Linked DNA regions of Homo sapiens: region 1 is linked to region 2. Evidence: fine-mapped expression QTL. Tissue or cell type: tibial artery. Region 2 holds a variant in brackets; the other region holds the start of a gene. All regions are shown on one strand. Distances are from middle to middle.

Region 1 (10,063 bases), 25 kb after region 2:
GAAAAGAGAAAGGCTAAAGGGGGCCATTAAGAATAAAGAAATGAGTTAGTGTCATAATAGCATAATAGCAGCCCCATTTAATGAGCTCTTAAATACGCCTAGTCCTAAACCAAGCATTTTTCATTGTTGGCCCAATTAATTCTCACAACATTACATAAGTAGTAGTATTATTGTCATTTTACAGCCAAGGAAACACCCAAAAAGATTAGATGAACTGCTAAGGTCAGCCAGGTAGTAATTTAGAACTTGAACTCAGGTTGATGTTTTGAACATGTGCTTTCTGCCTTCACAAAGAGAACTTCTGGAAAGTTTCTGGTGTTAGCAACATCATGAAAATAACACATAGTTCCCCCATCCCCACCAAGGGACTTTGTGGACTTAGATACATAAATTATTTCTATTTAAAACCAATCTTAAGCCAAGTGCTGTGGCTCATACCTGTAATCCCAGCACTTTGGGAAGCCTAGGCAGCTGGACCACTTGAGCTCAGGAGTTGAAGACTAGCCTGGCCAACAAGGCAAAACCCCGTCTCTACAAAAAATACAAAAATCAGCCAGGCATGGTGGCATGTGCCTGTAATCCCAGCTACTTAGGAGACTGAAGAAGGAGAATCACTTGAATCCAGAAAGTGGAGTTTGCAGTGAGCCTAGATCATGCCACTGCATTCCAGCCTGGGCGACACAATGAGACTCTGCCTCAAATAAATAAATAAATAAAACCAGTTTAGGGCCAGGGGCGGTGGCTCACACCTGTAATCCCAGCACTTTGGGAGGCTGAGGCAGGCGGATCACCTGAGGTTGGGAGTTTGAGACCAGCCTGGCAAACATGGTGAAACTCCATCTCTACTAAACATACAAAATTAGCGGGTGTGGTGGCGCATGACTGTAATCCCAGCTACTCGGGAGGCTGAGGCAGGAGAATCACTTGAATCTGGGAGGCGGAGGTTGCAGTGAGTCAAGATCGTGCCATTGCATTCCAGCCTGAGTGACAGAGCAAGACTCCGTCTCAAAAAAAAAAAAAACAAAAAAACACAAAAATAACAGTCTAGGCCAGGTGTGGTGGCTCATGCCTGTAATCCCAGCAAGTTGGGAGGCTGAGGCAGGCAGATCACAAGGTCAGGGGTTCGAGACCAGCCTGGCCAACATGGCAAAACCCCATCTCTACTAAAAACACATAAATTAGCTGGGCGTGGTGGCGAGCGCTTGTAATCCTAGCTACTCAGGAGGCTGAGGCAGGATAATCACTTGAACCCGGGAGGCAGAGGTTGCAGTGAGCCGAGATCATGCCATTGCACTCAAGCCTGAGCGACGAGCAAGACTCCATCTCAAAAAATAAATAAATAGGCTGGACCTGGTAGCTCACACCTGTAATCCCAACACTTTGGGAGGCCAAAGCAGGTGGATCACAAGGTCAGGAGTTGGAGACCAGCCTGGCCAATATGGTAAAACCCCGTCTTTTCTAAAAAAAAAAAAAAATACAAAAATTAGCCGAGCATGGTGGCGCACACCTGTAGTCCCAGCTACTCGGGAGGCTGAGGCAGAAGAATCGCTTGAACCCAGGAGGCAGAGGTTACAGTGAGCTGAGATCATGCCACTGCACTCCAGCCTGGGCGAAAGAGCGAGACACCTTCTCAAAAATAAATAAATAAATAAATGTTTGTTTGTTTGTTTGTTTGTTTTTGAGGGGAGTTTTGCTCGTTGCTCAGGCTAGAGTGCAATGGTGCGACCTCGGCTCACTGCAACCTCTGCCTCCCGGGTTCAAGCAATTCTGCTTCAGCCTCCTGAATAGCTGGGATTACAGTCAGGCACAACCACGCCTGGCTAATTTTTTGTATTTTTAGTAGAGATGGAGTTTCTCCATGTTAGTCAGGCTGGTCTCAAACTTCTGACCTCAAGTGATTCAGCCACCTCGGCCTTCCAACTTGCCGGGATTACAGGCGTGAGCCACTGCACCTGGCCAAAAAACAGTCTTAATACTTTAGAATCCTGTCAGAGGCGTATGAACCAGAGCAACTCCATCTCGAATAGGGGCTGGGTAAAATGAGGCTGAGACCTATTGGGCTGCATTCCCAGACAGTTAAGGCATTCTAAGTCACAGAATGAGATAGGAGGTTGGCACAAGATATAGGACATAAAGACCTTGCTGATAAAACAGGCTGTAGTAAAGAAGCCGGCTAACACCCACCAAAACCAACATGGCCATGAGAATGTCCTCTGGTCATCCTCACTGCCACACTCCCATCAGCACCATGACCGTTTACAAATGCCATGGAACAACAGGAAGTTAGTCTATATGGTCTAAAAAGGGGAGGCATGAATAATCCAGCCCGTGTTTAGCATATCATCAAGAAATAACCATAAAAATGGGCAACCAGTAGCCCTTGAGGCTGCTCTGTCCGTGAAGCAGCCATTCTTTTATTCCTTTACTTTCCTAATAAAGTTGCTTTCACTTTACTCTATGGACTCGCCCTGAATACTTCCTTGGGCAAGATCCAAGAACCCTCTCTTGGGGTCTGCATCAGGACCCCTTCCCTGTAACACCTTTCTGGCAACCACTGAAGGGACTATAGTGCAGAAACCCCCAACCCAAAGGCTAACTCTGGGTAAGTGTTGGGGTCTGGTAACAATCATATGTAACATCCGACCCCAAAAAATCATGAAAAGTGGTTAAAACACTAGAGCAGGCTGGGTGCAGTGGCTCACACCTATAATCGCAGAATTTTGGGAGGCCAGGGTGGGCAGATCACTTGAGCCCAGGAGTTTGGACCAGCCTGGCTAACATGCTGAAACCTCATTTCTACTAAAAATACAAAAATTAGCCATGTGTGGTGGCGTGTACCTGTAGTCCCAGCTACTTGGGAGACTGAGGCAGGAGAATGGCTTGAGCCTGGGAGGCATAGGTTGTAGTGAGCAAGAGCATGCCACTGCACTTCAGCCTGGGCAACAGGAGTGAAACCCTGTCTCAGAAAAAAACAACATCAACAACACGAGAGCAATCGGATTTAAAACATACACTCCTTGGCCAGGTGCGGTGGCTCATGCTGTAATCCCAGCACTTTGGGAGGCCAAGGCGGGCGGATCACCTGAGGTCAGTAGTTGGAGACCAGCCTGACCAACATGGAGAAACCCCGTCTCTACTAAAAATACAAAATTAGCTGGGTGTGGCGGTGCATGCCTGTAATGCCAGCTACTCGGGAGGCTGAGACAGGAGAATTGCTTGAACCCGGGAGGCGGAGGTTTCGGTGAGCCAAGATCATGCCATTGCACTCCAGCCTGGGCAACAAGAGCAAAACTCTATCTCAAAAAAACAACAACAACAACAAAATACACCCCATTTCCCAGGAACGAGTGTTTTTTGTTGTTGCTGTTGTTTTTTCCCCGCTATTATGATGAATCATTTCAGCTACCTACTTTTTGTTTTAGTTTGTCAGTTTGATTGGATTTTGCCCCATGGGGAAGGAAAGGAGAGCAGGATGAGGGGCACAGCCAAGGCCTGGAATCCTGGCACTCACCTGCAGTCTGAGGCAGGTAACTTGGGCAGCTGCCTCTGAGGTGGTGATTTCCCTGAGATGTGGGGGCAGGAGAGAATTGGACAACCAGAGGGAAGATTGGTCTAACTGCAGCAGATTGGGTAGATAAGATAAGTGAGGCCCTGAAATGATCACATGCAATGGAAAAGTTCTTTAAAAAAAAAAAAAATTTTTTTTTTTTAATTAGCAGTCATGGTTCTGAGGTTTGGTTCCATGTGCCCTTTCCGTGTACTGCCTTCCGAGGTCCTGATTCTCACAGTCCCTTATTGGTTCCAATGGCCCAGGACCCCAGTCCTTGCCACCAGCATGATGGATCTTGTGAGTAGTCCTAGTTCCTACTCAGACCTGATCCAAAGGAGAAGTGGGCAGAGACCCAGGTTCCAGCTCCAGCACCAGCTGCCTCTGAGCCATTTCTGCTTCCTACCAGGTGAAGCTCCTGGGAGGGAAGGGGCCCAGGACCTGGAATGATAAAGCTCCCTGGAAAGCCAGCCATGGCCAGTCTGCAGCCCCTGGGGACTCTGTGAGAGTCTGGATGCAGACAGGCCAGGGGCTGCCACCTCAGGAAAGCTGAGGACCTCAATGTCCACTGGGAAGAGATGGGAGGGAGGCATGGTTCTAGGAGGGTACTGCTGGTCTGCCCTTCCATTCATCTGGGAATCCATTTCCTTGTGGAAAGTGCAATCAGAGAGGTTCTTCACATCCTTACAACAGTCTTAGTGGCCCCTTCTCTTTGGACTCTCCCAAGATGCAAAGAGTGTTTCCGGAGATTAGTAGGCTCAAGAAGGGAGGGGAGTTAGCAATAAATTTTGAACAATCTTCAAACACTTTGGGTAGCTCTTAAGGATGAACTTGTTCAGCTTCTGAGACAGGTGTGTGACAAGTAAGACTGTGACTGATCTTCAGAAGAGCCCTGAGAACAGGAGATCACCAGCAGCCAGGAGCTGTGGAAGGTTGCCTTGGGGGAGCAGGGGTCCTGCTAACCCAGCATAACTTCTATTCTTAAGGTAGTACCCAGAGCAGAGGTTCCCAAAACATGAAACACAGATGAGCTCCATCAAAATCACCTGAAAGCTCCATCAAATTCACCTGGAAAGCATCGATAGCCAAAGCCTGCCCCCTCTGCAGCCTCCACCCACTGAATCAGAAGAGGGTCCCGGAGATCTGCATTTCACTCTAAAAGGCAACCTCCAGTGCTCCTTAGACTTGCTTAGAAAATACTGTAAATCTGAAGACTTATACAACTCTAAGTGTCTCAGAAACTCAGGGTGAAGAATCACAAGTTCTCTACTACCCTGCCCCATTTTTAATCACACTCATCACAGACCACAGAGCACCTGGCAAACCCAGGAACGGTGGGTTGAAGATATGTTTTCTTCTAGCAGATTAAGAGCTGAGCAGAGTTTCCTGTGCCCTGTGCTTCATTAGCACATTGGTGGTGTCGTTTCCGGTGACTGACTCTCTGTTTCCATTCTGGCAAAGTGGTTTGCTCTTTTCACTCTGCTTTGGGTGTTGAAGGAAGACGAGCTTCTCACGGAGCCTCTCTTGAGCCTCTTGGCAGTTTCCCCCTCTGTGCCCCTCACGTTTCCACCAGAAACGTGAAGGCAGAGGCCACAGATTCTCCCTGAGCCACCTCACTTGGAAGCACCATGTCCGGATGAGATCGCACTTCCTGCAGTGGGCATTAGCCACGTCCAGGTAGAACCAAACCTGTTGCTTTTGTATGTTGGGTCAACTTGGCCTGACGTTTCAGAGGTAGACACGAGATAGGGAGTTTGTTGCGGGGGTGGGGAGAAGTGGTAGACATGCTGGCTAACTGATTATGATTAAGAGAAACTTAGAAGCTGAAGCCAGAGAGCATCTCAAAGGTTCCTGATACAATGGATGGTGTCACTCCAACCCTTTCGACAATCAGAGGGAGGACCTTGGAGTCCAGCACTCTGCATGTGACTCCCCGCAGCCTGGACAGGTGAGTGACTCAGGGTGGTGAGCTCCACCCTGCCCTGATTTAGGCAGAAGGTCCTAGTCCACCCTTAGGAGCTTCTTACACAGCAGTGCTGCCACCTCTCAACACCCAGGCTCGGTCTACTAAACCACCAAACTCTAGGCTTGGAGGCATTTGCTCAGGGGTGCTAGGGGGAAAGGAAGGTATTGAGGAAAGAAAGAAAATATTGTGGTAGAGGAAAAACTGTGATAACACTGGCCCTTAAAGCTAGTTGCTTAGACTGGTTGGATTTCTCACCTCTCGGAGGCCCTGAACCCTATCATCAGTCTTTCCTAGGTGTCACCATGACAGAAACAAAAGGCTGAGTTTTCCAAGGATGTGTTTTGAGATCCAAAAACTTGTCATGAATAAAAAATGTAGTGATAGATGTAATAAAGATACGTCCTTAGGACGTAAAATCTTACAGAACTAATCATGGGTATGAATTACTGCTACTACTTTCAATCTCATACAAACAAAATTAAAAATCCATCCACAGTTGAAACTTTAAAAACATTGGCAGCTGACTGGGCGCGGTGGCTCACACCTGTAACCCCAGCACTTTGGGAGGCCGAGTGGGGCGGATCACCCCCACTCTTGAACCAGCCTGGCCAAGACCAGCCTGGCCAACATGGTGAAACCCCGTTTCTACTAAAAATACAAAAATTAGCCGGGAGTGGTAGCATGCTCCTGTAGTCCCAGCTACTCAGGAGGCTGAGGCAGGAGAATCACTTGAACCCGGGAAACAGAGGTTGCAGTGTCATGTCATTGTACTCCAGCCTGGGCAACAAAAGCGAAACTCTGTCTCAAAAAATAAAATAAAATTGCAGTCGTTTGGGGAAATAAATGTTATTATCATGGCAAACACATGTCACTTGCTGGTAGATATGAGCATCAATGAGCAATGAATCAGAAGCCTGAAGCATCTCTCCAAAACTATTTCTTCATTTATTTTTATTTATTTCTAATTGGCAAATCAAAATTATATATATTTATCATGATAGCCTGTTGTTTTGAAATATGTATACATTGTACAATAGCTACATTAAACTAATTAAGATACACATTACTTCACAATTTTCTTTTGTGGTGAGAATACTTAAAATTTCTCAGCAATTTTCAAGAATATGACACATTTTTATTAACTATAGTCATCAACACTTTTTTTGTTTTGTTTTGTTTGTTTTTTTTATTTTTATTTTTTTAGACAGAGTCTCGCTCTGTCGCCCAGGCTGGAGTGCAGTGGCGTGATCTCGGCTCACTGCAGCCTCCACCTCCCAGGTTCAAGCTATTCTCCTGCTTCAGCCTCCTGAGTAGCTGGGATTGCAGGCATGTGCCACCACCCGCGGCTAACTTTTTTTTGTATTTTTAGTAGAGATGGGGTTTCTTCATGTTGGTCAGGCTGGTCTCGAACTCCCTACCTTAGGTGATCCGCCCACCTCTGTCTCCCAAAGTGCTGGGATTACAGGCATGAGCCACCGGGTCTGGACCATCAACACATTTTTATTAACTATAGGCATCATGTTATACAACAGATCCCTTGAATTTTTCTTTCTCTCTAACTGATATTTTGTACCCTTTGACCAACATCTCTGCAACCCCTCCCTGGTAACCACCATTCTACTCTCCACTTCTTTTTTTTTTTTTTTTTTTTTGAGACAAAGTTTCACTCTTGTTGCCCAGGCTGGAGTGCAAGGTTGCAATCTAGGGTCACTGCAACCTCCACCTCCCAGGTTCAAGCGATTCTCCTGCCTCAGCCTCCCCAGTAAATGGGATTACAGGCATGAGCCACCATGCCTGGCTAATTTTGTATTTTTAGTAGAGTTGGGGGTTTCTCCATGTTGGTCAGGCTGGTCTCGAACTCCTTACCTCAGGTGATCCGCCCACCTCCGCCTCCCAAAGTGCTGGGATTACAGACATGAGCCACCATGCCCCGCCTTGGTAGTTCTATTTTTAATTTTTGAAGAACCTCCATAGTGTTTTCCATAATGGCTGTACTACACTTAAAACTATTTCTATATTAATTCATTTGTTTATTAATTCATTCATTTAACAAATATTTATCAGGGCCCTACTAAGTACCAAGCACTGTTTAAGGCACTAGGTGAACAGGATAAACAAGTCCATAACCTCCTGAAGATTATAGACAAGTGGGAGAGTCAAATAATGAACAGAGCTGAGCGTGGTGGCTCATGCCTATAATCCAAGCCTTTGGTAGACCAAGGCAGGAGGATCAATTGAGCCCAGGAGTTCAAAACCAGCCTGAGCAACACATGGAGACCCTGTCTCAAAATTTTTTTTTTTTAAATAAAAAAATGATAAACAGATAAGCATATGAATGTATAATATCAATCAATCGGGCTGGGTGAGGTGGCTCACGCCTGTAATCCCAGCACTTTGGGAGGCCAAGGTGGGCAGATCACCCAAAGTCAGGAGTTCGAGACCAGCCTGACGAATATGATGAAACCCCATCTCTACTAAAAATACAAAAATTAGCCAGGCGTGGTGGTGCGTACCTGTAGTCCCAGCTACTCGGGAGGCTGAGGCAGAAGAATCACTTGGACCCAGGAGGGGGAGGTTGTGGTGAGCCAAGATCATGCCATTGCGCTCCAGCCTGGGAAACAAAAGCGAAACTCCATCTCAAAAAAAAAGATATATCAATCAGTCATCAGTGCTATGAAGAAAAAGTGGAGCACAGCAAGGGGACTGCAAGTAATAGGGTGTGGCCATGGAAGACGTGTCTGAGGAGATGACATTTGACGTTTCAGAAGAGACCTGAATGAGAGGGACTCAGCCATGCAGACAGCTGGGAGAGGAGGATTCCTGGGAGAGGGAGTGGCAGGTCTGACACAGAACTGTGCTCTGCATGGGCAAGGGATCCTGGCAGTCAAAGTCAGAGGGAAAGTGGTAGGAAATAAGGTCAGAGGTAAGCAGAGGCCAGATCATATCGTGCCGTCAAGTCCTCTCTGAGGAAGGACTATAGACTTTATTCTAAGTCACTCGAAGCCGGGGAGAGTGATGAGTAGAGGAGGGATGTGATCTGATTTACCATTTAGAATTATCACACTGGTTTTTGTGTGAAGACAACGAATGTTGAGGCCAAGAGTTAAAGCAAGGAGACCATCCAGGAAAGTTATTGCAAAGGTTCCTGTGAAATGCACAGCAGCTTAGACCCGAGTGGTGGCAACAGAGGAGCAAGAGGTGGTTGGGTTTGGGATAAATGCCCAGGGTAATGCAGCCAGAATCTGCTGGTTGACTGGAAGTGGGGCATGAAAGAAAAAGAGCTCCAAGAATGGCTCCAAGATTTTTGACTAAGCCATTAGATTATGGGAAACACCTGGGGAGTAGCAGGTTTATGTGGGGAGAACAGGAGCTCTGTTTTGGTTTGAGCTGTCTGTTAGGCAACTAGTTAGAAATGCTCACTAGAAACTTGGATGGGCTGGGCGCGGTGGCTCACACCTGTAATCCCAGCACTTTGGGAGACTGAGGCAGGCGGATCATTTGATGCCAGGAGTTCAAGACCAGCCTGGCCAACATGGTGAAATCCCATCTCTAATAAAAATACAAAAAAAATTAGCCGGGCGTGGTGGCGTGTGTCTATAGTCCCGGCTACTCAGGAGACTGAGGCAGGAGAATCGCTTGAACCTGGGAGGCAGAGGTTGCAGTGAGCCAAGATCATGCCACTGCACTCCAGCCTGAGCGACACAGCGAGACTCTGTCTCAAAAAAAAAGAAAGAAAGAAAGAAAGAAAGAAAGAAAGAAAGAAAGAAAGAAGGAAAGAAAGAAAAGAAAAGAAAGAAAGTTGTATAAATAAGCCTAAAACTCAAGGGGACAAAAACCTTCCCTGTTAAATGCCCTGGTTTCTAATAATTGGGGGTAGCACGTCAGTTCCTGATTCCCGCTGTAACTTCAGTTGGCAGCTTCCTGTTGCATTAGGCATAGCCATCTGGGGTTGTAATCATCTGGATGCATTTCAACACCCAAGCAAAACCGAGCAGTGACGCCAGCCCTGCCAGGGAATTGCAAGGTAGCACAGAACATGAATTGGTTAAACTTCACACAACAGCAGTGTGTTGCTTGGAGACCAGCTCCACAAATTGGTGCGGGGGGGGGGGCGGCGGGGGGTGGGGGGTGTTATTCAAGTTCATGCAAGCTGGACTCTGTCACAGAGCCACTCCTTAACTGTACGTTGGCTAATCCTCTCCTCCAAGCAAGCCAGGAAGCCCACGAGTAGGGAACAAGAAGGGGCAAGGCCAAATGACTTTGACTTTGCAGGTTTGGAGGACAGTGTGGCAGAGTGGAAAGAGCATGGTCTTTGGACGCAAACAGACCTAGATTCATATTCCTTCTCTGCTCCTTCCTACCTAGGTGATCTCTGACATGTTACTTTACCTTTCTGAGTCTAAAGCTCAGGTTACTTGGCCACAAAGTGTGATAGGATTGTTAAAGATTAAATAAGTTTCACAGGCCGGGCACGGTGGCTCACACCTGTAATTCCAGCACTTTGGGAGGCCAAGGCGGGCAGATGACAAGGTCAAGAGATTGAGACCATC
Region 2 (10,692 bases):
CTTTTCTCTAGTTTGATTGTTTCACCAATAGCCAGCACTTATTTTGCACATAAAGTTTCAGGAAGCCCTTTCTCAGCCGGACTTGCAATTGGAGTATTATCAACTCACAACCTAAGATCTGGTGTTCCCATTGGTAGATTCTTGGATTCTTGCTAATGCTTATGTCTTCCTATTCCTGGTCATTTTCCCTTCCCCAAATGGGACTCAGAGAGGAGAGAGAAGGTAGCCAGCTCTTTGCTGATAATGTGGGAAGGAGTTTATCTGTATTAAATATAATGTGGGTTTCAAATAGCTGAGTGTTCAGTCTGTTCCTTCCTCCCCCATTCCCAACCTCACCACCCCCCACCCCGACCTCTGCAAAGGGGCTCAAGAAAGAACAGTTGCCTTGTCTGTGGTTCACATGATCACGGACTGTGTGGGTTGACCAGACTTAGATTTGTTTTGTCTCTTTAGCCAAAGTGTTCTGATGTGAGGAATGGGGGTGGAACTTGATAGAGATACATACAATTTCTTTAGGTCAAAAAAACAGGCAAGAAAGAACTCACTAAGTCTTGCCCTGCAAGTATCCAGGAACCTCTCCCACCAGTTCTTTCATATTCCTCTCTTAATTCCTTTTTTCCTTCTAGTTCTGCCATCCCCTTCTAACTAGCTTCTGTTCTGTTTTAATCATCCCTTTCTGATAGGAAGGGTTAGTGTCAGATATCCTGATGGTTTGATGGTGGAAGGAGACTAAGTAGAAGACTAAGCAGAAGACTGGGATCTTGTAGAGCAGCTGGTAGAGGGTGTGCTCCAAATCCTCAAAGACTAGATCAGAGGAGAGACAGGCCACACCTGCTCTTTCTCCAGCTGTGCCTTTTTAGTTGGAGCTCCTAGAAGTTATAGCCATACATTTTAAAACCCTCTTTCCCATTCCAGATCTCCAAATGAATTCAACTGTTTGTCCAACCTTCATTAGATAGATCTCTAAGATTTCCCTGCATAGGGAGGCCCTAATCCTTTTCTTCTGGTTTCTGAAAAGAGCAGAAAACTGCCTGGCGCGGTGGCTCACGCCTGTAATCCCAGCACTTTGGGAGGCCGAGGCAGGTGGATTACTTGAGGTCAGGAGTTCGAGACCAGCCTGGCCAACATGGTGAAACCTCATTTCTACTAAAAATACAAAAAAAAATAGCTGAGTGCGGTGGCGCACGTCTGTAATCCCAGCTACTCTAGAGGCTGAGGCAGGAGAATCGCTTGAACTCGGGAGGCGGAGGTTGCAGTGAGCTGAGATCACGCCATTGCACTCCAGCTTGGGCAACAAGAGTGAAACTCCATCCCCCCCAAAAAAAAAAAAGCAGAAAACTACAGAATGAGAAAATGGAGTCTTCACCTGCCCACTCATTGAGCTGCAGAGAGTAGCCCTCAGCACTCATACCCAGTCTCCTGAGTCATGAAAAGAGTTGCCCTTCAACCAGCCACTTCCACCTGTAGGCCAGGGCCCCAAAAGAGACATTTCCCCAAGGTTTTGAGAAATGATGACCAGGAAGGGAAGGGTTGACTGGCTGTGTGGAGAGTGCTCAAAGCTTTCCCTGCACCTTCTTCACTAGCCCTGTCTTGTCCCCATACACTGCTCATGCACCAGGCATCATGCTCCAGGAAGGGGAGATGCCAGCCCTGGGTGGATTGGTGGTGATATAGTGCATGATTGTTCATCAGCATGTGTTCTCTGAGGCCAGTGCTGGAGTTGGGGCATCCTGGCACAGCCCCATGCCCTCTCCTCCCTCACCCTTCTCTCCACCCACCAAGCCAGCTGGTGCTCCCTAGCTCTCTGACCCCTCTTCACGTGAGCTTCCTTACAGGTGGCTGGTTTCCCTTTAGATTCCAGAAGTCCTGCAGTCTAGCTGGATGACTGTTTCTTGCTCCCCAAAAGACATTTCCCATATTTTTTCCATCTACCCATCCCCAATTCACTTTTATCTTCCTCATTGTTTACCTGTAACAGTATTATTGGTCACCCCAACAGGTGAGAGGAAAAGCCAACAAACAGGGCTCCAGACCCTCACTCCAACCCCAGTTGTTACAAATTTATTTTCTATAGTGGACTTCACATGTAATTTTTTCCAACAAAGTATTCAATTGAATGGAAGCAGGAAATTGAAAATCACTGATATTGAAGATGATGTACTGGCGGATAAAGGCACCTGCCCTCCTGTAATATTCAGTAGAAATTTTGAGATCTTGAAAACATATGAAAAATGTGGGCTATGTTATCACTCCTGACAGTGATGGCTTTGATGGAGTGGGATGACTTTGGACCCATCTCTTGGCCAGTGTATCTGTGCCAGGGTCAAAGGAGAAGGCACTGGGTTTGGACTCACTCAATCCAAATTGCCTTGCTCTGAGATTTTATGTAGATCAGTGAAAACTTGAGACTTCCTGAAGACCAGATGGAGCCTCCATTCCATCTGATCTCACCTAGATCTGGAGCAAAGGCAACATGATAGGTAAAATTTGCACATCAGATGGTCAAATAGGAATCAGATAATAAAAATGTGGTCCTCGCTGTCTGTTCAGCATGGTGAGTGTGTGCCTGTGCTCCCTGATTCTTCTTGGCTGAGGTGTTGAGCTGATACTGTTGAGTGGCAAGGAGTCCTTTGCCTTCTGAGCTTTGAGCACCCTCAGTCTTGGGTGGGTCTGCAGGCTGTAGTAGAGTGGGACGAGATAAAGAAAGCCTTAGCCAGCAGAGACACATTCTCCTCCAGAGAAAACGGACCAACAGTATTGATAGTGAGCCTTCTTTGAGTGGTATTTATGAAGGTTCTGTATGGTGGTAGGAAGCACTGGAACAGGTGATCCAACCAGTTTATTTGGCTGACTCTCTGTATCCTCTGCTGTCTCCAAATTCTTGTGTCTTCTCCTGGAATATATTTTTGGTTAAACAGCAGAGGAATGAAAGAGGTACCCTACCCCCACCTTCATCACTCCTACCCCTCCAACCTCAACAGTTTCCCCCACATTACTCCCATTTCTTTTCTGAGTGAAGATTTTTTGGACAAGACTAGGATCAGCCACCTTCCAACAACTAGAACCGTCCTACAACCATTTACCTTTCCCCTGGCCCCTCTCTCCAACTTCTCGGAGCTCCAACCCTCTCCCCCTACCCCAATTCTACCATCCCTGATTCTAAGCCACGCCTCAGAGAGACCTGCAGTTCAGAAAAGCAGAGCTGCCAAAATTGCTGGTGCCTGTGGACAAGCAAAAGCTGTTCACAGGCATCAATTATTGTCAGTTTTTTCTTGATGACTCTGAACTGACCGAATCCCTTCCTTTTTGCGCAGTAAGACAGAGACTATGACACTGGGCAATGCATCTCCTTTTGCCCAGTAAAACCGCACGTGGTTTCCTTTCCTTCATCCTCTTCATCCACCCCATCAGAAAGGCCACTTGTTTGTAGCACTGCCTCCTGGATTAGGTTTCTCTCCCTGGTCCCTTTCATTCCCTTCTCCACATAAGACTATGCTCCTCTTCACAATTTGGAAACAGCTAGAGAAAGCAGCATGATTGGGCACAGTTGCTGTGTATCAGAGACATGAACGTGCATTTGAATTATGAGAGCCAGGTCTTTTCTCAATAGGCAGGAGGAAGGCATCTTTTGACACCTGTATTTTATCTGCTGCTTCTAGGGAAGGGGCTGAAGGAGTGAAGTTCTGTGTTATTTGCGGGGAGGGGACACAGTGGTGGTTGTGGGATATAAAAATATGCATGTTTCCTGGCTGAAAGGGCAAATTATTATTAGAGAGTTTTAAGTTCCTGCATGCTGCTGACACAAATGAAGATTGGTTTGTCTGCCTGGCTGCACAGTTTTCATGGTCACTCGTCACCCAACCTGTATTATGTGCAGATTGGTGTATGCTGGCTCTTTGAGGTCTTTAAACAGATAACTAAACCTCAATGCATAATTTTTCCATTCCACATTCACAAAATGTTTGGCCTCAGCACAGAAATCCACATATCTCAATCATCTTTTTAAGTTTGGCTATGAATTTGCATCTAGTTCCCATGTCCTTGCCCTCCATCTAAAAGAACTAATGAAACTTCTTGTTTTCTGTTTCATTTTAAAAGTAGATTGTTTGGGAATGCTAACGTTGCTTTGGGTTTTCTACTTTTTTTAATGCAGCTTTCAAAACGTCCTAGTTGCCGTCACTCACCCCAGCCCACCCCACTGCTTGAAAGTTGAGCCATGTGATGTTTCTAGTGCCCCATGATCTCTTCTGATGTGTGTTTGGTTTTGATGCTGAGCAGTCATGTTTTATAGTCTGGGTTTTGTTTCTCTCCTAAATCCACCATCTCCTTGTTCTGCCGGCCAATTCTCACCTCTCTATTTTCTCATCCTCCTTTTCCTTCCCCTGGTATAGATCAAAGTGGTCAAAGCGTTCCATAGTTCCCTCCACGAAAGCATTCAGAAACCCTACAACCAAAAGTCCATCCACAGCTTCATGACCCACCCTGAATT[C/T]GCCATAGAGGAGGAGTTGCCACGAACACCACTCCTGGATGAGGAAGAGGAGGAAAATCCTGACAAGGCTTCTAAGTTTGGGACTAGGGTGCTCCTGTTGGATGGTGAGGTCACTCCATATGCCAATACAAACAACAATGCGGTGGATTGCAACCAAGTGCAGCTCCCCCAGTCGGACAGCTCTCTACAGAGCCTAGAGACATCAGTTTGAATTTTCTTTCTCTGACTCTCATCCCTATTTTACCTATTTCCATTTTCGTCTATCCCATCTATGAGGTGATGATGGGACTTTTCATTGTCACGTCAGCTGCTGTGTTAACAGCAGTGTGTGTGAAGTGAACCTCTACCTGACCATGAAGAGGCAAGAGCACAGACTTACAAGGATTTCAACTTAAGCTTGACTTGGGGTTTGTAGCGGGACCCAGTCAAACCCCATTCAGGTCATGGTAGAATCTACTCCTTGGTAGTCACTTGTCATTTTTAAAGAAATGATGACAATCCTCTTGGCATCACCCCACCCCACATTCTCCCCGATGTTCCTCTCCTGAATTCTGGATTTTGTCCTACAAGTCTGTGCCATTTATAAGCTAAGTTGAGGGTTCAGAGGGAGACAAATATCCCCAAGTGAAATATGTTGCGGTAGAGATGGAATGTATAAAATCCGCCAGTAGTGTGATTGTTTTTCAATTTTTCCCACTTTGAAAACTTACACCTAAAGGCCTGTAGGCCTCTAACTCTTTCTGCCCTTTCATTCAAACCTCTCCAAAGTTCTTTGTCTTTTGTCTTCCCTTCCTTTCCTTTTTTTTTTTTTTTTTTATGATGATTAAGAAAATGGAAAGGATATGGATGAATTGTGTAAACTTAGATCCTTCTCCCTTTTGGCCCAAAAGAACCCTTGATTTAGTTCCAGAATCCAACCAGTTTCTTTGTTAAAAGGGTCCTTTTGAAGCAATTAAGTGCTGGTAAGAATATTTCTCTGTTGTTGCCAGGTTACCTTCTGCTTTTAAATTGCCATCTTGTAAAGTGTATGTGGTTCTTAAGTGCCAGGGAGATCAGCCTTGCCCATGAAGGTTGCATATGTGTGGTATACAGTTTTTACCTGAAAGCCTGAGCTTTCTCTTATTCCTAAAGTGGTGGCAAAAGAATGAACTGGGTATGACCCTGCCCCCTTACTGGGCTTGGATATTGAGGACCAGACGCTGCCAAATCTAGGACAAGACAGACCATCAAAGCAGACTTTTGTGGGCTCCTCTTTGGGGTGACCACTGCTTTCAAAGCCATCTGCCAAGGCTCTCCAGGGCAGGACCTGACTGGTGGGGAATGAGTGTTCAGAAGCCTTGGGAGAGGCCAAAGAGCCATTCTAGCATGATCTGAGAAAACCTTCCTGCAGAGGCCAGAAACCTTGAGCTTAGGTGCCTGGGGACCAGCTTCGACATTCTCTCCAGTTTCTGATTCTAATTTTTGCCACGTGTCACAACTTTTCCAGTCTCTGAGAAGGTCCCAGCCTTTCTCAAATATTCTGATTTTGAAAATATGTATCCAAAGTGGGAGGCCCCTGTGACATTTTGCCAACTTAAACGAGAAAAAGACCCCCCGCACCCGGCACACTCCCCCTTCCTCCAGCCCCGCTTCAGCCACATGCTCCAGCTGCTGCCCAGTAAAGCCCTGTGCCTTTTTTTCCCCTGAATACTGCCCAAAGCATCCCCTTCCCATCTGCCTCTCAGGAGTTGGGGACTTTGCTAGGAGATTTTTTAAGTGTTCCTTACTGGGACAACGTGGAGCCACGTTTGCAGGAGCTCCATTTGTATCCCTGCTGGTGTTGACTTCTGTGTAGGGGCCAGTTCATGTCCCTGACTCTCACCTCCCATTAGATAAATGAAGCCCACCCCCCTTTCTAGAGTGATGAGAGTCAAGAAGAGGGGATGTATGAACGGCCAAATTCCCATGTGAGAGGAAGATGACCTGATCCACCTAGCCTTTTCTTCTGGATCTGTCCTCCCTCACCCCTTTCACCTGAGCTGTCCACAGTAGGAAACATAAAGAAACAATGTCCCCTACATATCCCCATGACTACATAATCCATCATCGTAGGAAATAGGAAAGCAAATTTGATTTTGGTTTTGTAAAACGTACATGCTTCAATAATTCTTTTTTGTGTCTTAAATACTCATAGGGGAAAAAAACAGCTCACCCAAGGTGTTAGGTTTCACATATATATTCATCAACTATTTTAGAAGATTTAATTCTATCAAATCTTGTATTACCTCAGATCATTTTAAATAGCAAGCCAATAACGAGCTTTGAAGGCTATTTTACCATTCCTGTTCACAAAAGGTTCTCATGGTGCCTGACAGGTTACCCTTGAGGGCTTGTGTCTACTTTTTAAAAGTCAATGGTTTTTTTTCTTGTGTTCTAGTTTCCATAATAGGAGAGAAAATATAGAAATATATGCAAAAATTATAGTTTTCTTTAGATCAGAAACTGATATTTTTGGGTCAGCCATATGTATTTTGTTTAAAGGATTTAAAATAAAGTGCCGTCATGTAGCCCTGTGGAAGGGAGCACATAACCAGCTGTTTGGCATGACAGGTGACTTAGTATATTTGTAATTGGTTTTAAAACCAATACACCATACTTTCTTTCTGCAAACAGCCATCTTTATACTTAGGGAAGAAAAATTGTTGGGTTCTAGACTTTTTTAATATAAATTTTGTTGATATGGAATTAGGTAAGTTTAAGTGTCTATGTGCATATGTTTTTTATATAAGTTTTTTCTATTCAGTTTCACTGATCCAACTGGCAGTGGGTAAATATGGCATAAGTTAATAACACTTTTCCCCAAAATGGTGCTTTGGATTTGAAAAGGGTCTGATGGGGAGAAGGAGAACGTATCATCCTAGCTTCCTCTCTTAATAAACCTAGAAAAACGGGTAGTAAACTGTGGATAGTCAGGAAAACACCCAGCAAGGGACACAGCTGTCAGGAAATGAATCTTCCCCCCAACCCCCACCATGCAGATGGATAGACAGAATCTTTCCTGACTAGTCATTAGGATCAGGGGCCTCTGTTGGATTTGTGTTTCTTGAAGAATAGCTGGCAGAGTGGTATAAAAGACACGAATATCTCCTGGTCTATAAGGATACTCTGATTTGGGGTTTGCATTTTTCATGGTTTTTATTTCCTGTTCCCCCTGGAGTTTTCCATTAGTGAGTTTTTGTGCAAGGATCTTATTTGTGATGCCTTCCCTCCCCTAGAAAGATTTTGTGCAATATATTAAATGGGGACAGAATTCTAAATGGATAAAACAATGGCTGGTTCTAGCCCTGAGTGACAGTCTTAAGGCTAGATCCTTCCCATAGTATCATCTGTCCTCTGGAATGACTCTCCTGTCCCTAAAGGGGTTAAGAGAGAGATCACCTAGAAATCCCTCTGGACACTTGTGGGTTCTTTAGGGTTTGAGTTTCTTCTTCCCCTTGAGCTTCAGAGAGGAGAGTTGGCATGGTTAAATCTGAATGGTTACCTCACTGCTGAAAACCCAGAGGGGCGTGGCACACTCGCTTGTGTGGAAAAGCCTCTAAATGCATCCCTTCCTTTCTTTCCTGCTTCCTTTGCCTTACAATTGAAGCAGCCCGTGGTACCATCACAGTATGCAGAGACTTCCTCACCTTTCATATCTAGGGACCACCCCCGATGCATTGGTGAGGGTGGGCACTTATAAATGCCTGCTATTGTTAAGCCATTCCAGCCTCTTCCTCTGAATAGACCAGACGCCCTTTCACTTAGTTCAGTGCCAGTCCTTTTGCCTTCCCAACCCTGCTGTTAGGCCTGCTGTTCCCTTTGCTCTTGATTAGGAGAGATGGAAGGAGATGAGCTCCCATAACTGAATTGGCCTTTGGTTCATGTTTTCTCCCCATATGTATATATGCCATATGTGAATATGCCATATATATGTGCCAACAAATCTATCTACGTTGTTCTTTTCAAATTAGCACGCAGATAGGAATTTTGAGTTTCTTCTTCTTTTAGTAACTAGTATAACAAGCACTGGTATTTTTGTACAAAAAAGAAAAACAAAAGATTGACTATTGTGGTCTGCATGACATAAACAAACAAATGGTGATATCAAAGCAACGTATACCCCAGTCCAGTGTGTGTTGCCATAATTTGCAATTCAGCTTAACAGTGCACCCAATCTATATTTGCATTTTGATATTATTTAAGCTCTATGTACAAGGTTTTGCATGTATTTATATGGTTCTTAGGGAAAAAAAATGCTATAAACTGCAAATCTGAAATTCAAATGTGTTGTTCCACTGAGACCAGAAGAAGAAGAGGAGTTTTAAAAGGGATAATTTGTTGGAGCCAATAAAGCTTTTTGCTGATGAACAGAAACCAATACTGCTGTGCACTGAGAATAAAAACTCATGCCCACTTGTAACTGTGCTGTCCTCAATGCGTCTCCACTTTTGGGTAATGCCACTGATTGTCTGTTGAAGTTGAGAAGGGAAATGCCGCAACCACAAGGACAACCCCATTTAAACAGGCACAGAATTCAGCTTACCACCAGACTCTGACAACGCTTCCCTTCCCTCTGGGCCTTCGCATTGGCTTCATTCCCTTGCAGTGCAAGCTGTGCTCCACCCACCTTGGTTAGAATCCACAGTTCAGGAGCTGGAGCTTTTGGAAGAATAAGAAAGAGGCAGTCTTGGCAGTCCTTGCTTTTTTTCTTTCCTTTTTTTGTTTTTTGTTTTTTTTGGTTTTGGTTTTGGTTTGTTTTATATGAAATGTCTTTTAGGAGAAGTAGTTTCCCTTACATTAGCCGCCTTTCCCTTGGGTTCTCCACCCTCCCCCTCACTTCCCTATGGTTTAAAAAATGTCTTTCATTAATTGAGTCTTGCTAGAGACTCATATTAGGCCCCAGTTTCAGGTCAAAACAGCTTCCTGGCAGGTCATTTACATTCTGAGCTTTCATATCTGAGACAACTCCTTCCTGCAGCTCTCATCCAGGTGCACGACGAAGTTCCCCAACCCTCTTTTAAAATATCACAGGGAGGAGCCAGGCACAGTGGTTCACACCTGTTGTCCCAGCTACTGGGGAGGGGAAGGGGCTGAGGCGGGAGGATCGCTTGAGCCCAGGAGTTCAAGTCCAGCCTGGGCAACATGGCAAGACCCCATCTCTAAAATACACACACACACACACACACATCATAAGGAGGAAAGGACCTTGTCCACTCCCCAAATTCCTTTAGGAAAAGCATGACATTGAAGAACGCCCCAAACTCTCCTGGCTATTTTAATAGTCTGGCTCTGAAAGAGGATCTAGCCCTGGTTGAAAAAGACTTATGGCCGGGTGCAGTGGCTCACGCCTGTAATCCCAACAGTTTGGGAGGCCAAGATGGGTGGATCACCTGGGGTCGGGAATTCGAGACCAGCCTGACCAACATGGAGAAACCCCATCTCTTCTAAAAATACAAAAATTAGCCAGGCATGGTGGTACATGCCTGTAATCCCAGCTACTCGGAGGCTGAGGCAGGAGAATCACTTGAACCTGGGAGGCAGAGGTTGCGGTGAGCCAAGATCACGCCATTGCACTTCAGCCTGGGCAACAAGAGTGAAACTCCATTTCAAAAAAAAAAAAAGAAGGTCCGAGCGCAGTGGCTCATACCTATAATCCCAGCACTTCGGGAGGCCAAGGCAGGCGGATCACCTGAGGTCAGGGGTTCGAGACGAGCCTGACCAACATGGAGAAACCCTGTCTCTACAAAAAATAAATTCAGCCAAGCGCAGTGGCTCATGCCTGTAACCCCAGCACTTTGGGGGGCCAAGGTGGGCGGATCATGAGGTCAGGAAATTGAGACCATCCTGACTAACACAGTGAAACCCCATCTCTACTAAAAAATACAAAAAACTAGCCGGGCGTGGTGGCAGGTGCCTGTAGTCCCAGCTACTCGGGAGGCTGAGGCAAGAGAATGGCGTGAACCTGGGAGGCGGAGCTTGCTGTGAGCCGAGATCATGCCACTGCACTCCAGCCTGGACAACAGAGCAAGACTCCGTCTCAAAAAAAACAAAACAAACAAACAAAAATACAAAAATCAGCCGGGCGTGGTGGTGCATGCCTGTTATCCCAACTATTCAGGAGGCTGAGGCAGGAGAATCACTTGAACCTGGGAGGTAGAGGTTGTGGTGAACCGAAGTCACACCAT

Direction of the effects. Alleles are on the strand shown, and positions count from the first base shown. SD is a standard deviation of normalised expression in the study named.
For the expression in tibial artery of the gene that starts at base 5,024 in region 1, T is the high allele of the variant in region 2 and C is the other (moderate effect, 0.55 SD a copy in GTEx).

The links. PIP is the estimated chance that this variant, and not a neighbour inherited with it, causes the effect.
Region 1: it holds the start of LAX1, and the variant in region 2 is fine-mapped to the expression of LAX1 in tibial artery (GTEx, PIP 0.96).

The regions. Positions count from the first base shown.
Region 1 is chr1:203,760,160-203,770,222 of GRCh38, forward strand. It overlaps LAX1 (lymphocyte transmembrane adaptor 1), which reads left to right and starts at 5,024. Exons shown (of 5, transcript NM_017773.4): 1 at 5,024-5,495. The coding sequence starts at 5,407. RefSeq lists an enhancer at 4,907-5,266.
Region 2 is chr1:203,735,155-203,745,846 of GRCh38, forward strand. ATP2B4 (ATPase plasma membrane Ca2+ transporting 4) reads left to right here. Exons shown (of 21, transcript NM_001684.5): 21 at 4,392-8,927. The coding sequence ends at 4,700. LOC102723543 (a long non-coding RNA gene) reads right to left here and starts at 9,405. Exons shown (of 2, transcript XR_426890.4): 1 at 9,051-9,405; 2 at 2,040-2,893. The variant C/T (reference allele first, on the strand shown) is at 4,490.